Linked DNA regions of Homo sapiens: region 1 is linked to region 2. Evidence: fine-mapped expression QTL. Tissue or cell type: whole blood. Region 2 holds a variant in brackets; the other region holds the start of a gene. All regions are shown on one strand. Distances are between the middles of the regions.

What was found. PIP is the estimated chance that this variant, and not a neighbour inherited with it, causes the effect.
Region 1: MEG3 starts here. The variant in region 2 is fine-mapped to the expression of MEG3 in whole blood (TOPMed, PIP above 0.99).

The regions. Positions count from the first base shown.
Region 1 is chr14:100,822,723-100,830,823 of GRCh38, reverse strand. It overlaps MEG3 (maternally expressed 3), which reads right to left and starts at 4,706. Exons shown (of 10, transcript NR_190993.1): 1 at 4,607-4,706; 2 at 2,008-2,116; 3 at 1,075-1,790. RefSeq lists enhancers at 1-171, 6,406-7,106.
Region 2 is chr14:100,675,418-100,683,518 of GRCh38, reverse strand. No RefSeq gene overlaps it. Among named protein-coding and RNA genes, the nearest start is that of LINC00523, 22 kb to the right of the region's middle. RefSeq lists enhancers at 2,402-2,995, 3,590-4,183. The variant C/T (reference allele first, on the strand shown) is at 4,790.

The DNA of each region.
Region 1 (8,101 bases), 150 kb before region 2:
TGTCTACACTGAGCTGGGCTTCTCTAAAGCAGCCCAAGTTGTTTTTGTCTTGTCCGGACAAAACTGGTTGGCTTAAAACGGGACGAAAGAAATTCCTGGTCAAATGAGGACCCCAATTAGGTTCCAAGAGACTGTTTTCATTATCTTTGTATCAGATACCTAGCCTGGTGCACTGGGCAGATTGTCGGTGCCCCAGAAAATGTTTGTTGAATTAATTCATTTTTATTTATTCTGGAATTTCTTAATTGAACACAAACACACACAGCACCTACTGAGTGCTGTTCTCACTAAGGGAGAATTGGGCTGGACATGTGAGCAAGGAGGGACAGCCTCGGGTGCTTGAGTAGCTCACACTTTCCACAGCAATTTACAAAGCACTTTCATAGTAGTTACAGCATTTGGTCTTCAAAAGCGCCCTGTGGGGTAGATACACGAGGGGGTGTGTGTGTGTGTGTGTGTGTGTGTGTGTGTGTGTGTGTTTTAATCTCCATTTAGACCATGAAAGAAACTGAAACTTAGAGTAGTTAAGCGACTTGTTTAAGGTCACACTGTTATTAAAAGGTGAAGCCAGCACATGGTACCAGCACTGGGGCCACCCAGACCCCCAAGACCACCCCAGGCAGCTGGGATTTCAAACAGACTGTCCCATTGTCAAACATTTGGTTTGAAATAAAAGGACTCTTAGTATAACTCTGGGCCAGAGGGGAAGAAGGGGTGAGGGCAGCTAGCGTGGCACCCTGGGTCCAACTCCAACCCCTTCTGTTGCCAGCAATGTGACCAAATACTTACACCTCCCAGCAAGTTTCTGTTTCTTTAATGTAAATGTAAGCCCTACCCCATGGGACAGAGAGTTCAGTCCTCACGGGTCCTCTCTCCCTTTCAGCTTCTTTAAATTACAAAAATCAACACTACCAAATGCATCCTCACCTGGAAATGAGGCTGCCTCGTTTACATACACATATTACATAAAAATCACATGTTCATATCACATAGAAAGTGCTCTGGAAATGGCCACATGCATAATTCGTGTTCTTACTCAAGTCAGCCCGTCGATGGTCTCTGCAAAGCCCCTACCTGATGCAAGGAGAGCCCGTGGACAAGGGCTGCCTGGAGTGCTGTTGGAGAATAAATAAGACAAGTAAGACAAGCAAGAGGGGTGGGAAGGGACTGACCTGTCAAACCTTTTCAACAAACATTTGCTGATCACCTCCTCTATGCCAGATCCTGCCTGAGGCCTCTTTTATCTCATTTAATTCTCACAACAACCCTAGGAGGTTGCTCTCATCGACCCCATTCCCCCAGAAAAGGATAGGAAGATCTTCAGAGAGGTCGGGCGTGCCTTTGGTGATTCAGTAGCATGCTCATTCCAGAAGCCCACCCAGGGCCTTGGAGTTGCCAGCAGGATGCTGGCCAAGCCCTTGGCCCAGGTCCCCCTCCTGAGAATTTCCCAAAGGGATCCTTCCATTCAGGACATCATAAGGGTGATGACAGAGTCAGTCGACAAAGACTGACACCCCCTTGGGGAGGGAAACACTCCAGTTTGCTAGCAGGTGAACACAAGCAAAGACTTATAGGAAAGTACTCATAGAGTCAAAGTATGAGCATAGCAAAGGTCAGGGCTTAATGCCCAATGCCCCCTCACTAGGGCATTGGTTTAAGTCTTTAGGTAAGAGGGACAGCTGGCTGGTCAGTTCCGGTCCTCTTCATCCTTTGCCATCCTGGTCCTGGGGGTCAGTGAGTGGCTGCTTTGTATGTTGGTGGGATCCAGGAAACCGTGCTCCTAGTGCCCTCTGCAATTGATCAAAGGTTAGAGAACCTGCTTAAAAGCCCAAGCCTAGATCATAATTACAGTTTAAGTTCATTAATTACAATTAAAGCTGATTAGTTAAAATTTAAAATTGTCTTTTAATTGCTAGTGGGTCTGGGGGTGGTGCAAGGATGGTGGTGGGGTTGGGAGATTCTGCCCGCCACGTTGGTTATGAAATGATAGCAGGAGGGTTGAAGTACCGTGAGGTGTAGATGGGCAGCAGGCCCCTTGGCAGCAGCTCAGCATGGAGAGGAGGTGGTCCTTGAAGACAAGGAGGTGGACGGATGATGTCATCCCTGAGGAGAGACCCTATGGCATGGGAGGGGGGCAGGTTAGAAACCATCTTCGTGACCTCTAACGGCCAGCACCGGAACAGCAGAGAGCAAAAGGGGGCAGGCAGAGGGAAAGGCAGGGAGGAGTGGCAAAGGGGAGGACTGAGGAAGGCAGTAGGGAGGGGCTGGGAGGGAAGAGGGAGGGGTATGGAGGGAGGAAGGAGGGGGGCAGGGAGAGGGGAGGAGAGAAGGGGAGGGGAAAAGAGAGATGAGGAAAATGAGGGGGGAAGAGGGAGGAGGGAAGAGGAAAGAGGGAGGAGGGAGAAGAAAAATAGGAGGGGGAGGAGGGACGAGGAAATGAGAAAGGGTGGAGGGAGAGGAGAAATGGGAGGTGGAGGAGAGGAGTGGGAGGGGGTAAGGATGATTTGACTGACAGGTCACAAGTGTTAGCTGTGTGCGTGTGCGCAACTCAAAACCCAAGGTAGCGGGGCTGGCACACACCGCTAGGGGGCGCGCGGCCCGCACCCGTAACCCAGGAGTGCAGCAGCCACCTGCGGCGCCCCGGCCCGCGCCCGGCGGGCCTGGATGGACAGGGGGTGCCCAACAGGTCTCAGGCTAGGAAGGGCTCCACAGCCCACCCCAGGCCACCGCGCCAGGTCGCTACGCCCCCTGGACGCCTCTCCAGCCACCACCAGCCAGAGCCCACCTGTGGCTGCGGCGCAGCGCCTCCCGCCCGCACCAGGCGCCTCCTGCGCCCCCAGCCACCGGGCCCCAGCCCCAGAGGAAGGTGGGCCACCCAGCGGACCTGCGCCAGGCCCCTCTGGAGCGCCGCTCCGCCTGCTACAGGGAAAAGCAGAAATCCCGACTCCCACCTTCGTCAATCCAATTAAACACACGTTCACTAAAGTCAGAAAGACCCAGTCCTCCAGGCACCGCTGTCACGCATGTGGGTGGTCTCGGAACGAGAGACAGAACCTGTGACATCGCTGGAAAGTAACGCAAAGGGGGCCACCACGCCGCTCCCCGCCTTCGCCCCCAGGCATCAACATCACGCCTCCAAAGTCGTGCCTCCCTCCTTCGCCACAACAACAATTTCTAGCCCCCGCACGATGGCCCCTCACTGACCTTGTCACAGCCTCTCTCTCCATCCTGCTCAAATGAGCCACACCTTCCTAAGACCCCCGAAACCAAAAACCACTGGAAATCAACTAACGTGCCTCTGTGCGCCTCCACAACACCCGAAGCCACGGCGCAAAGGCCGACCCCGGCCTCTGCGGCCACTCCGCAGTGAATCCGGGGGGTCTCAAAACTGTTCCCTCTTGGGTAAACGAATCCAGGATCCTCCAGTAGATCCCGCGCCCGACCCCCTCCATCAGGAGAACAAAGGCCACCTCCCCTCCCCACCCCGCCCCCCAAAATTCCGCAGTGCCGCCAGCGCCCTCTCGCGGCCAGCCAGGAAACCTTCCAGAAACCTGCCACGTAGCCACCCGCCTGCGCCCCCACCAGGCCCGCCGGCCCAGGGTGGGAGGGGGCGGCCTGGGGGGGCTTGACTCTGACAAAGGAAATGGCAAAAGGCGATTTGACCAAAAGTCCAAGACTGCAACATGTCAGGATTTTCGAGCGACCACCACGCAACGCTCTGAAGACCCCCGCGGCACCCCATCCCCAGCTCCCAGCGTCCAGACCCCAGCAACACACCCCCTTTTCTGCATTTCTCTCCTCCCTCTTCCCAGACCCAAGGACACGGCCTTCTCTCCTCCCCAACCCACCCCCTGCATCTATTCTCCCAGTGCCCCCAATCCCACGACCCCCCTTCGGCAAGGACTGATCCTAGGGGGCTACTGGCAGGTTTGCACTTGGGCGCCATCTCTCTCCACTGTGAAAGTGGCTGATCAGGGCAGAACCAGATGATATCGGGTAGAAATTTTACTCCACATTTTGCCTGGGGTCCACACTGCACTAAACCTGTGTATTTGGATTCGGAAAACCTCGCGAAGAGGAACCTCCACTCCTCCCGCCCACGATCCACCAAAAACCTGGCCAACAGCTGGCGAGGCAAATATGCCCGGGAGACCCTTCTATTCGGGTGCTTCCCCCCCTAATTCATGGGGCACGCAGAAGGCATCGCCGCCATATCTCCCACTATTAACGCGATTCTAGAGGCGGCTTCTAATACAGGAAATCCGGGGTTCGCCCCCCAGTGACTGCCGTATACCCGAATCCAAGAGGAGTTCCATCTGATTCCTCCCGCTCCTCTGAACTGAAGTCCCTACCACCCAGCCCACCCTTAAGGACTGGACCCTCCAGAGAGGAGCCCTGACTTCCCCCCAGGGAAATGTGCCTCAAGATTTTCTTTCTGACAAATTTTGTTGCGGACGCTCGGGGACCAGGCGAAGTGGCCGCCTCCAGCAGCAGGACCCAGGATCAGGCAGGCTCTCGGCATGTCCAGGAGGACAGAGCCCATCCCAGAAGCGGATGCCGTCTTCCTTTTGCACATCCTTTGCGGCAAGGATGGCCAACCACTCACCGGGTGAGGGATCCTCTCGTGGGCGCCCCAGCTCTCCTGAGGAGCCGCCGCCAAGGCCAGCGAGCCAAGGCGCGCTCCCTCTCTGCTCTCCGCCGTCTGCGCTAGGGGCTGGCTGGGTGGGGTTTATATGGAGGCGCAGAAGGGGTGGTCTCTGACGTCAGCGCATTCTGCTGCAATGCGCTCATTTCTCTAAAAGTGATTGGCCGGAAAAATGAGCCCCCCAGATTCTATGACAAATTGCTCTAGCCGCACCCAGATTGCAGCAAAGAAGGGAGGAAAAAATTCTGCCGCAGTGCCCCTGGCCGCCATGACCAACACCCTGTGGTCGCGGGTGCTTTTTCCCTGCGTGAGCCCGGCTCGCCAGGCAGGGTGAATTCAGGCACAATGTGTGGGGGGAATCGCCCCGATGGCTGGCCGTCCTCAGGCGGCCGATGGCCAAGGTGGGGCTGTCGGGGCGCAGATCCCACACCTGGCGGTTTCGGAACATCCATCGGAGGATGCGGGCTTAGCGAAAGAAAATCATGCTTTCTCTTATTGTTCAGGAAAATAAAATGCCCGGGCGACATAACTGGTTCCCAGATGTAAGCCAGAGGCTGTCACCCCCTCCCAGCCCACCCGTGCGTTTCTGACTGGTTCTCTTTGACATGGGAGACAGAGCTCCGCGTCTCCGAGTCAGAAAACCCTGGCTGTGGAGTCCCGGGCTCTGCCGCTTACAACTCATGTTCGCGGAACCCGCTATGCCCCTTCCTCTTCCACTGGGTCCGCTTCCTCCACCTTAACCAGGGGTACCCCCCACCACACACACCAGGGTTGTAATAAGAATCCAGACAGGAGCCGTGCCCTCTAAGGAAAGTACTTTTAGAGGGCGGACTGTGTCCCATGTGGAGATGCCTGAGCTACCCCTCAAAGTTGGGGTGATCCCCACACACATGCCCTTTGAAAGAGCCCCAGCGCCCCGAAAAACAGGCAGCGACACATGTTGCGCCGAGCCCTGCCGCGGCCTCGGCTCCGGAGCTGGCACATGGGAGTTAATCCCTAACAGGTGGGAGCCCTCGGCAGCTCTGCCCGGCTCTGAGTGGCAGAGCGTGCAGGGCCGTCAATCAAATGTCCTCTCGCAAAGGTCAAAATGCTGTTGAAAGGGACCGAGGATCTATCTTAGGGTGACAGGTGGGTGGCAGCCAGGAGGACAAGGATGGAGTGCTCGGTGACAGAAAGCAGGTGAGGATGAGCAAGGGGCCCCAAAGAGGACAGCAGAGAGGCCCCGCCGAGGGCATCAAGTCAGAATCGCTCCCCCGCACTTCTTTGGGGGGTTTAAGCGGCGTCAGAGGGAGCCCCCCATGCCCAACGATCCCACAAGGTGACTGTAAAGCAGACGGGAGATTCCAGGGCTGAAAAGAAGGGAGAAAGGCTATTTCTACGTCCACAGCTAATGACTAGGGAGGTGAACATTGACCGTCAGGTCACTAGAGGCGCCGAGCCTTGGGACGGCGTGTGGGGGGCTCGTTTTTTCATAAACAGGCGCACTGTTGGGGAGATAGAGACGTGGGACGTTGGGGTCCTCATGGGGCGCTGCTTTAATATGTCAGGTAACACGAAGGAGAAAGAAAACACCCCCTTTACAGCCTGTGGAGCTTGCCAGGAGCCCCAGGGACTAGAGCCCCGGAAGCAGGCCTTGCACAGCAGAAACGCCCGCACCAGCCACAGACGTCAAGAACGCTTCAAAAAATCATGGCTCCGAGCACCCGCGTCAACAGGAGAACGTTTATTAGCCACAGTATTAATAGCTAGGAAACAGCCAGAGCTGGCCGGGGCCAATCAGCAACCAGGAGCCCCTGTCGTCAGGCCCCCACGGCCAATCAGACGCCGGCAGGCCCGGTTGCTAGCCTCTCGGGGGCAGAGGCGAGGGGCACGCATTGACAAGGGGCTCGCATTCACCCGCCGCGCGTGGGAACTGTGGTGGCCGCCAGAGAGCATCCGCAGCCACGCACCCGGGGGCCCGGGAGGCTGTCGTAGACACAGTGCCAGCCCGCGTCAGCCCTGCAGCCCCACAAGGGCATGAGTTGACGTTCCGGTGGGAGCCCCAGGCCTCAGGTGGGATGCTCCTGGAGCCCCTAGAAGGAGAAACTTCCAGACACCTAATGTCCAGTCTCTCCTGTCAGGGCCTGGCGCCCCTGCGGGAAGTTGAGCCTCCCAGTGAGAAGCCAGCCTCTGCCCTATTCTGGGCCCCCTGGCTCTTGAGCCTGCTCCTTCGAGGTTCACAGTAAACCCCACTCTCCTATTTCAGGGCCTTACTGACAGCCCAAGGAAAAAGACCGTGGAAATTACGGGTTTCCTACAAAGCACCACGGGTTTGAATCCCGGCTCTGCTCCCTCCGCGCTGGGAGGCTGAGGTCCAGGCCCTCCCTCTCTGTGGGCCCCTACTTCCTCATCTGGAAAAAGGAAAGACTTGGACAAGATGGTCCCTAAGGAGCCTTCCAGTCCTACTTTGCTTGATTTGAATGTATACATCAGGCGAGTCAAATGTCTTCCAGAACATTCTGCATGACAGTAATTAGTATCAGGTGTATCCTGCAGTCCATGTGGTTACTTCATCATGCTGCTTTTCTTTCCATTGTATTTTATTTTAAACAGAACTCCATGGCAACATGTTTACCCTTCTGGCTTCCTAAAAGAAAGAAAGAAAATGATGAGGGGGGGGAGCAGGAATGCGAGGCAAAGAGAGAAAGAAAAGACTGCTGCAAACTAATCTCCACTGAACATGGTTTAACCACAATTTAAAAAAAAAATCCATATGTTTAAATGTTTTTGTTGGCTTTTCTGGAGCTCAGAACCTAACTTTTTAAATATTTATTGGTCCAAAGCAATGGAAGAAATTCTTGAAGGAGCCAAACCTATAGTAATATTTGGATCTGAACTATTTCTCAATCTGAGCAATGCTATACATGCCTTCCTCCCTCAAAAAGGCCATTCAAGGGCTCAGATTTGTATCTATAGGGGAAAACAGACAAGGAAATCCAGGTTTGAGAAATGGAGCACTTTCTCTCTGTGCATGCTGAAACCCAACTCTCCTGAAATCCTGGAGGCGAGCCAGTGTCCCAGACGCATGGCTTAGCTTGCTGCCTTTTTTTTTTTTTTCTCAGATCTAACTCAAAGCACACATTTTTCTTCTTTTTTTAATTCATACTTGAGAACCCTCAAAAGCCATGTGAGCAGCCTCCTATCCACATGTACATACTTATGGGCAAGGGGACAAACCTCCTAAGAGCCAGCCAGGAAATGAAGACAAGGTCCTCCTATACCCATCTCCCAGGCATGGGCAAATATACTCTCTTCTCAAAAAGCATACTCTGAACTTTTACAAACAGCAAACCCCAAGTGCCTACCCCTCTAAGCCGACGTCCCAGTTTTCCCCGTACCCTTGAAATTTAGCATGCACCAGAGATCTCTTGAGTTCCTCTTCTGCACTCCCCCCAGGGGGCTGCCGGGATAGGGAGG
Region 2 (8,101 bases):
TTCAAGCGATTCTTCTGCCTCAGCCTCCTGAGTAGCTGGGATTACAGGCATGTACCACCACGCCCGGCTAATTTTGTATTTTTAGCAGGGGTGGGGTTTCACCATGTTGGTCAGGCTGGTCTCGAACTCCCGACCTCAGGTGATCCGCCCGCCTCGGCCTCCCAAAGTGCTGGGATTACAGGCGTGAACCACCGCACCCAGCCTAAATCTTGATTTTTTAATTGTAGTAAAAGAATCTTTACCATCTTCACCATTTTTAAGTGTACATTTCAGTGGTATTAAGTACATTTCCACTGGTGTGCAATCATCACCACTGTCTGTCTCCAGAACAACTTTCGTCCTGCAAAACTGAAACCCCAAAAGATTAAACACTAACTCCCTATTCCCTGTCCCCCAGCCCTGGCAGCCTCCATCCTACTTTCTGTCTCTATGATTTTGACTCCTTCACATAAAGGGAATCATATTTAACTTTTTGTGACAGGCTTATTTCACCCAACATAATGTCCTCAAGTTCACCCATGTTGTAGCCTGGGCCAGCATTTCCTTCCTTTTCAGGGCTGAATAGTATTCCATCGTGTGGACTGACCACATTTTGTTTCTCCATCCACCCTTCAGTGGCCACTCAGCTGTGTCCACCTTCTGGCTACTGTGTGTGATGCTGCTATGATCATGTGTGCACAGATAGGAAGCATATCTTCAGAGTGTGTGTGGAGTTGGGAGGGTCCAGCTTCTCTTCAACCCTTGGGAGAGGCTTCCAGAGGAGAAACGGAGCTGCCATGGGCAATGTGGGCAGAGTTAGGAGGAGGTGGGCTCTGGCTCTCCCTGTTCCTTCCCTCTGGTCCTGGAAGCCTCTCTTTGAGGCCAGCTGAAGGAAGACCCTTGCAAAGGGAGAGACTGGCCTCTGTGTCCAGTTGGAAGACCCTGGCAGCGTCAACATGCTCCAGGTCCATATGGCCCCTCCTTCCCATAGTCAGGCAGCAGAAGACCCTTTCATCAGGATTCAGGGGGCGCGGGCCTCCAGGCTCACTTTCACGTAGCCACAGCCCCACTTACAGATGGAAAACCAAAGCCGTGGTCCTACTGGAGGCTGGCCCGCCCCTGCCAGCCCCTCTGTGGTTCCCAGCCCCTCCAGCACGTTGAGCAGAGACAGCTGCCAAGAGACTTGGGTAACAGATGATTCCTCAGACCTGGGCACTTTTCATGTGATTGAATGCACACTTACAGAAGGGCCAGCTCTGAGTCTGCCAAGGGGCAGGCCCATACTTCAACTCCCCAAGGCTCGTCCAGACTGAGTGCTAAGTCTCCATCAGAAGCTATGAGACTCTGGCCACCTACTTCGGGGACAGAAAAACCTGCCTGTGGGGACCTTTGGCGTCCAGTCCTCTCCACAACCCGGAGCACACGGCACGTTCCCATTGGCGCTTTCACAGTGCAGATGAGCAAGCCGAGGCCCAGACAGCTTGCACCATGATGAGCAGGGTATGGGGAATGAACTCAGCTCCGGGGGGCAGCAGCGTCCCCTCCACAACCACAGCTGCCTCCCCAGGAGTCCATCAAAGTCCTGCAGAGCCCCCGGAGCCCCCCACAGACAATCCCTGGCAGGGGACGGAGTGAACCTTCTCTCCTTGGAGTGCCCCTGTGAGCATCAGGGTTACGGGGCAGGAGGCAGATCCCCGCCCACCCTCCCCTCAGCTCAGCCTGTCCTCCCCATCTTCTCATAGCTGCTCACACCCAGTGCCACTGCCCCCCGCCAGCTTCTACCCCCACTCCCAAGGATGCCAAGGACCCAGGTTACCAGGCCGATGACACCCCTCCCGGCTCCTGTCGTGGCCACCCCAGGCAGCCGACTGGTCCCTCCTGCTGAAACACCTCTTCCTGTGGCTTTGGGACCCGAGTCCCCCTCCTCTTTGAAGACCCCTTCCCAGACTTTCTCCAAAGGCCTGGCTCTTGCCCTTGCCTCCTAAAGCTGCCACTCTGAGGGCCAGTCCTGGCTCCATGCCCTCCCCTCCTGCCATGCTACTGGTGGCCTCATCCTCCTACCACTGAAGACCCCATGTGCCCAAGGCTCTTACGTGCCCAAATCCCAGCTCATACCCAGAGGCCCACCCCAGAATCACAAACCCAACGTCCCTCTCTCCTGAAAGCATCAGCCTCCACGTGTGTGTCCCCCATCTCCCACCTTCTTGAAAATTCTGCCACAACCCACGCACTCCTTCAGCCCACTGCCCCACCCATGCCCCCTCGCTTCTGCTCCAGGCACTCTCCACATCAGCCCCTCCGGTCCCCAGCGGGCTGCTCAGGGACGTGTTTGCATCATGGACCCTTCTGCCTGGAGCCTGCTGTTTCCTGCAGCCGGGGTGCCCCCTTGCTACCCTGGCCCACGTTCGGACGAGAAGCCAGATGCGGACTCCGTGTTGCTCCCTCTCAGGTCCCAGTCAGAGCCTGTGATATCACTGTCCAATCACATGCCGTGTCCCCCGGGGGCCCTCTGGGATACAGAAGTGTCAGTTATCTCTGTGTCCCTAATGGTGGGACAGGAAGGGCATTCAGGCCCACGCAAAGGCCTGCGCTCAGCAGCAGGAGTGCAGAGACAGCTCACTGGCAGCAGGAGGGCGTGGGGCTGCTGGGGCACGGTAGCTGGGGCTGAGGGCCTCTTCCGGTCCCTCGAGGGAGGAGCATAGTCTTTATCCAGGGGGCCACAGGGGCATGGTCACGTCTGAAGCCTTAGGAAAGGTCTGAGTAGAGGCAGGAAGTGGCCTCTGGCCGAGATCGCCTTTGCCTGGCCTCAAGGCCATCCGCTTTCCCACAAGACTCTTGGCCATGGTTGTTCAGGCCACTGTGAGCTTTTTTATGAGGCTGGAGGTTTGTAAAACTTATTAGTTGGTGGAAACTTGCGGGCTGCCGGCCAGCCCTCTGTGGTGGTGGCAGAACCCTGCCCGCAGGACACCCACGTGGCCTGTGACAATGGGGGGAGGCGGAGGGAAGGGGACCCCAGTTCAGGGGTGGTCATCCTCGGCTTCCCACAGCCAGGCGTTCTCAGCCGGTACTGGAGGGAGGGGCTGTCGCCTCGCACCCACCGGTCCTCAGGACACTCGAACCAGGGTTGTGACCACTTGGGAGCCTCTGGGTTGGAGATCAGGCTGGTGGCAGTGCAGGAAGGGAGGACCATCCCCAAACAGCGTGGCCTTTACCACAAAGGAGCCACCCTGGGTTGTCTCCTGGACACGGGTTCAAATCCCTGGTCTGCAGCCACCTAGCCATGTGGCTTGGGACAACAGCAGTAGAATTCCTGGTAAACACCCACTGGTCCCAGGCTCTGAGCTGAGCTCTCACATGAACCAAGTCAGTTGTCAACAGCCTGGAAGGGGACCACCATTATCATCTCCTCTCTAAGTCACATTCTCCTCTGCAAGAGAAGAAGAGTGTGGCGCCCACTTTCTCATGTCACAAGAGAGACACTCGTCAGCACCTGGTGCACATTAGCCGCCTGTGGACACAAGCTCTTTCCTTTCCCACCACAAGGCCCTCCTGGAGCTGGCCGCCTCCTCTGCCTTGCTGGGGAGTTCCCTCAGCAGGAAGGAATGTGCAGGCCCAGCGATCTCTGGAAACACCCGGAGTCTGCAGAACGTGCTGGACGCGGTCAGCTGTGTGAGACCTTGGCCCCCAGGCCTCTGGATGCACTGGATTCCCTGGAACAGTTAGCAGGACACAGGGCAAAGGCCTTTCTCCTTCTGTCGGTAATCAAGACCATCTGAGGACCCACGGGGCGCTCACGTTCTACCTTCCCTGGCTTGGCTGAGGGTTGAGAGGGCCTCGGGAAGGGTGGAGGGAGGAGGGAGAATGGACATAGGCCCATCTTTCGGCCTAGATGGAGGAACCGTGTGCTGGCTGGGCAGGCTGCTGGCAGAGGTCAGGAGGGCTCTTCCCTGAGCCCTGCCATCCATGAACTGTGTAACTTTGATCCAGGCCTTGTCCCTCTGGGCCTCAGTTTCCCCAAGCTGGATGTGTCGTCCCCCTGCTTCATTCACAATTACCACCAGAAGGACCAACACCACCCTGCAAGACTCAATGGGGTGATGGATCAATCAGAAAAAAAAACAACAAAAAAAAACACAGATCGCCTAGGGCTTAATTAACAGGAGCATGGTATTCATAGCTGGGGAGGTGAGAGTCGGCTGCAGACTGTACCTAGGCACTAACACTCAGTTCTGGGAGAAAATGACAACTGATGCCTGTTCAGGAGAGGGCACTGCGGTGGGTCTTGCAAGGAACAGATAGGAGAAGCCCTGAGACTTGGTTTGGAGGAAAGAGGCCCAGAAGGTCATGACTGCCACCTCCAGATGCGCTGTGGCCCCGGAGCAGTACTAGAAAGCCCTTTCCTAGCTATGAGACCTCCTCCACAAAGGAATGCACGTTCAATGAGGTAGTGAGCTCTCTAGTCCCGGAGGTAAGCAAGTCTCTGGGTGGCATCTGGGACCTTGTGGATGCCCCAGCAGCCTGGCTGGGCTTACCCTGAGGGGCTAAAGGGAGTGGTTGGGCCCTTCGGCCCCGTGGTTCATGAAGCCTGTAGTGTTCCTCTTGGGGAAGGGGCCACTGATGTTTCCCAGCCATGGAAGTGCCTGGTAGACCTCACAGATGCTTTGATGGTCCAAACAGGTGCCTCTGAATGCCACATCTTTGGGCTCCAGGCTGAGAATGCAGGGGAGGGGACTTCTTGCCCCCTGTCCAGGCCTCAGATCCCTCCTGGCTTTCCTGCTCCAGCCCAGCAGCTCACCAGACCCAGCGTCAC[C/T]AACATAGCGTGGCTCTTAAGACCTTGCCGGCCACCTCCCCACAGCATTCCTGCCTCCACCCTCCTCCAGATGCTGTGCTTTGCTGGCACAGGGCCCACTGTCCATGCTCCCTCTACCCACCCCCCTTCCCGAGGAGCCCGAGCTCTCCCAGCACCCTTCAAGCCACCCCTGGGTCCCTCGGCATGAGCCTTGCCCAGCCGCTGTTTCCTGGCCTGGGGGTATGGGTTTGCCCAGCTGTGGCTGCCACCTCCAGGACCCCATGGATGGGCAGGAGGATCCATCCACCCAGAAGGCTGCATCTCCCTCCTCAGGGCCACACAAGGAAGTTAGGGCGGAGCAGACCGGGGCCTCTCTGGCTGGGGCCCTGGGCCCCCAGCTCAGCGTCCCCTGCTCCCCTGGCCCCCACCCCTGCCCAGCTGCCGGGGGCCTAATCCAGGCCTGTGGGAAGAGGCCCTGGGTGGAGGCGGACGTGATAAGGAAGCCGCTGGGATGCCTGGATGCTGCAGATGTGGCTCTGGGCTCCTGCCTCAGGCGGATTTGACGAACTTGCTAAACTGCAATTCTCCATGGCTTAGGGGAGCTGGGCCCGGGCCAGCGCATGCATTATCCTCAGCAGCTGCGGGCTGTGGCGAGCCAAGGGGCGGAGGCCTGGCCAGGCAGAGGCTCCGAGGCCAGCCAGGCCTCCTAACCCTCCACCCTGGGACCCAGCGAGTTTGCGGGGGGCCATTCCCAGAGGTGCCGAAAGGGGCTCACAGATGCCAGTACCATGAAGGCCCAACTAACAAAGGATTTCCAACCAGAAAATATATTTCCCAGGATTCTGTAGACCAGAGTGGGGTGAAAGACAGCTTTGTGCTAGAGGCATGCGGCCAATGAGTGGGTACTGGAAGTTGGACCCCGCTGTCTCCACTGGGGGCTGCACCCGCCGTGCTCTGGGCTGGGCCGCTTACAGGCACTTCCTCCAGGCTAGGCATGACCTTGACATTGCCTGGAGTTTCCGGTTCTGGGGGAAGGAAGGGGCCTCTCAAACGGCCAGGCCAGGCAGAAGCACAGGCTTGGGCTTCTGTGTCAGGGAGGTGGGAGCTGTGCTGCTGCGCTCCCCGGGGCACCCAGCACCAGCAGCATGCCCGGTGGAAGGAGTATGGGCTTCACAACTTCCAAGCCCTCCGGGGCAGGTTCCAGGTGGACACCACAGCTGTCAGCCTGGGTTGCCCCCTGGCGTGAGGCTCACAGGTTCTGTGGATGTCATCAGACTGGCAGAGTTAGTGCTCCTCAAGAAATGGAGGCTGTCACCTCACCCAGTGGGGCGGCAAGAGCTCCAGGAAGCCACCATGTGGATAAGGGTGGGCGCAGAGCAGGCTTGAGGAGGGAGGCTGGGCTGGGTCTTCACCCTAGCGTCTGTTTTGACACTGGAGCCTCGAGCGGAATTCTGTACTCTAGACAATAAATTTCCACACACATAAGCAGAGAGCAGCGTTTCTGCTTCCAGCTGCCTCGTCTCCTAGAATAGCTCTTTTTTTTTTTTTTAAGAGGGAGTTTCACTCTTGTTGCCCAGGCTGAAGTGCAGTGGCGCGATCTTGGCTTACCTCAACCTCCACCTCCTGGGTTCAAGCGATTCTCCTGCCTCAGCCTCCCGAGTAGCTGGGATTACAGGCACCTGCCCCCATGCCCAGCTACTTTTGTATTTTTAGTAGAGACAGGGTTTCTCCATGTTAGTCAGGCTGGTCTCCGACTCCCGACCTCAGGTGATCCACCCGCCTCAGCCTCCCAAAGTGCTGGGATTACAGGCATGAGCCACCGCACCCAGCCAAATAGCTGTCTTTTAATTACACAGAAAGATCACCAGGAAAAAAGGGAAGAAAACAAGCCAGAGTCACTAGAAACTCATCTCCATGCCTAGAACCTCACAACAAAGTAGCTGAGAGGCCAGGCAGGTCCAGGCGGGCGCTCCAGCCAGGCAGGAGCTTGAGGGGCGGGGTGTGGGGGCCACAGTCACGGTACCTCCACCCGCAGGGTGGGTTGATAGATTGTGGGGACTGTGAGCACCTTCCTTCCATATGGCTGAGCACCCATATGGGACTTGGCACTGGGAACAGCAAGCCAGCAGCTCCAGCACCCTGTAAAGTCCAGGGGAGGGGGGCACATTTGAACCCATTAATCACACAAATTTTGCATCGCAGTGTGAGATGCAGGTGAGTGCTGCAGGCCTGGAGTAGGGGAGTGTCTCCGTCAGAGAAACCATGGAAGGCTTCCCAGAGGAAGCAGCGCTGGAGCTTTGAGGAAAAGTGGGGAGTAACCAGGGAGCCTCTTCAGAGTCCAAGTCACTCTTCAGAATGACCCGGGCGCAAAAGACTACACCCAAAGAAAAGCTGGCTGCGTTCCCAGCCAGCTGAACTGCGGGCCGCCTGCCTCCTCATCTGCGTTCCTGCCTCCCCACCTTTGTTTAGGCCATTCCCCCACCCAGAATGCCTTTCCAGGACAGAGCTTCTCCAACCTTAGTTCTGACTTTCTAAGTCACAGAGAACCACAGAGAGGCCTCCTCCAGGGACACCACCTGAGCCTCAGCACTTTGTAGCTGCCTCTTCATCTCAGGCCAGTGTGAGCCGGGGTGAGGGCTCCAGCCCCCTTGGAGCGCCCGGCATCAACCCCGTGTGCCGGGCAAGCTCCAGAAGTGTGTTGGAAGGCAGGGTCGATATTGCCGGCTTTGGGGGGATGAGTCGATAACGATTGAAAGTGAGCAAAATATTCTCCTTTCTCTCCCTGTAAGGGGAATTTGAAAATCGGATTTACTGGTTAAATTAACAGAATGTGCATTCTCAGTTCAGCCCCACCCCTGGGACTAGTCACTTACTTAAAAATACATATTAAAAATACAGTGAATCATCTCCACTATGTAAAAACAACAAAACGTGCATGCACCTAGCCATGGGGCAAAACCCATAACAAAAACCCCCACCCTGGTCATTGGCCTGTGGCAGGGCCTTATGGGGTCTCAATTTCCTTCTTTGTGTTCATGTATTTCCCACCTATTTCACAGTGAACTGATTCCTTTTAAGGTAAAGAGAAAAGATAACATTTTAAAATAAAAGAATAAGGTATCAATATCATTAATTGCAGTTTTAATGGTAAGAAGTGCCCCCAGCTCATTTCTCCATCCCCACTTTGAAAGTGACAGGGTCTCAGGCAGCCCTGTTTCCAGGCAGACGTTTCTGCACATGGACGCACACACGCAGGCAGGACGTTTGGTCTCCTGCTCTGTTCACTTAACATTAAAGATAAGCATCTCTCCCCAACAAGACTTCATAATTACG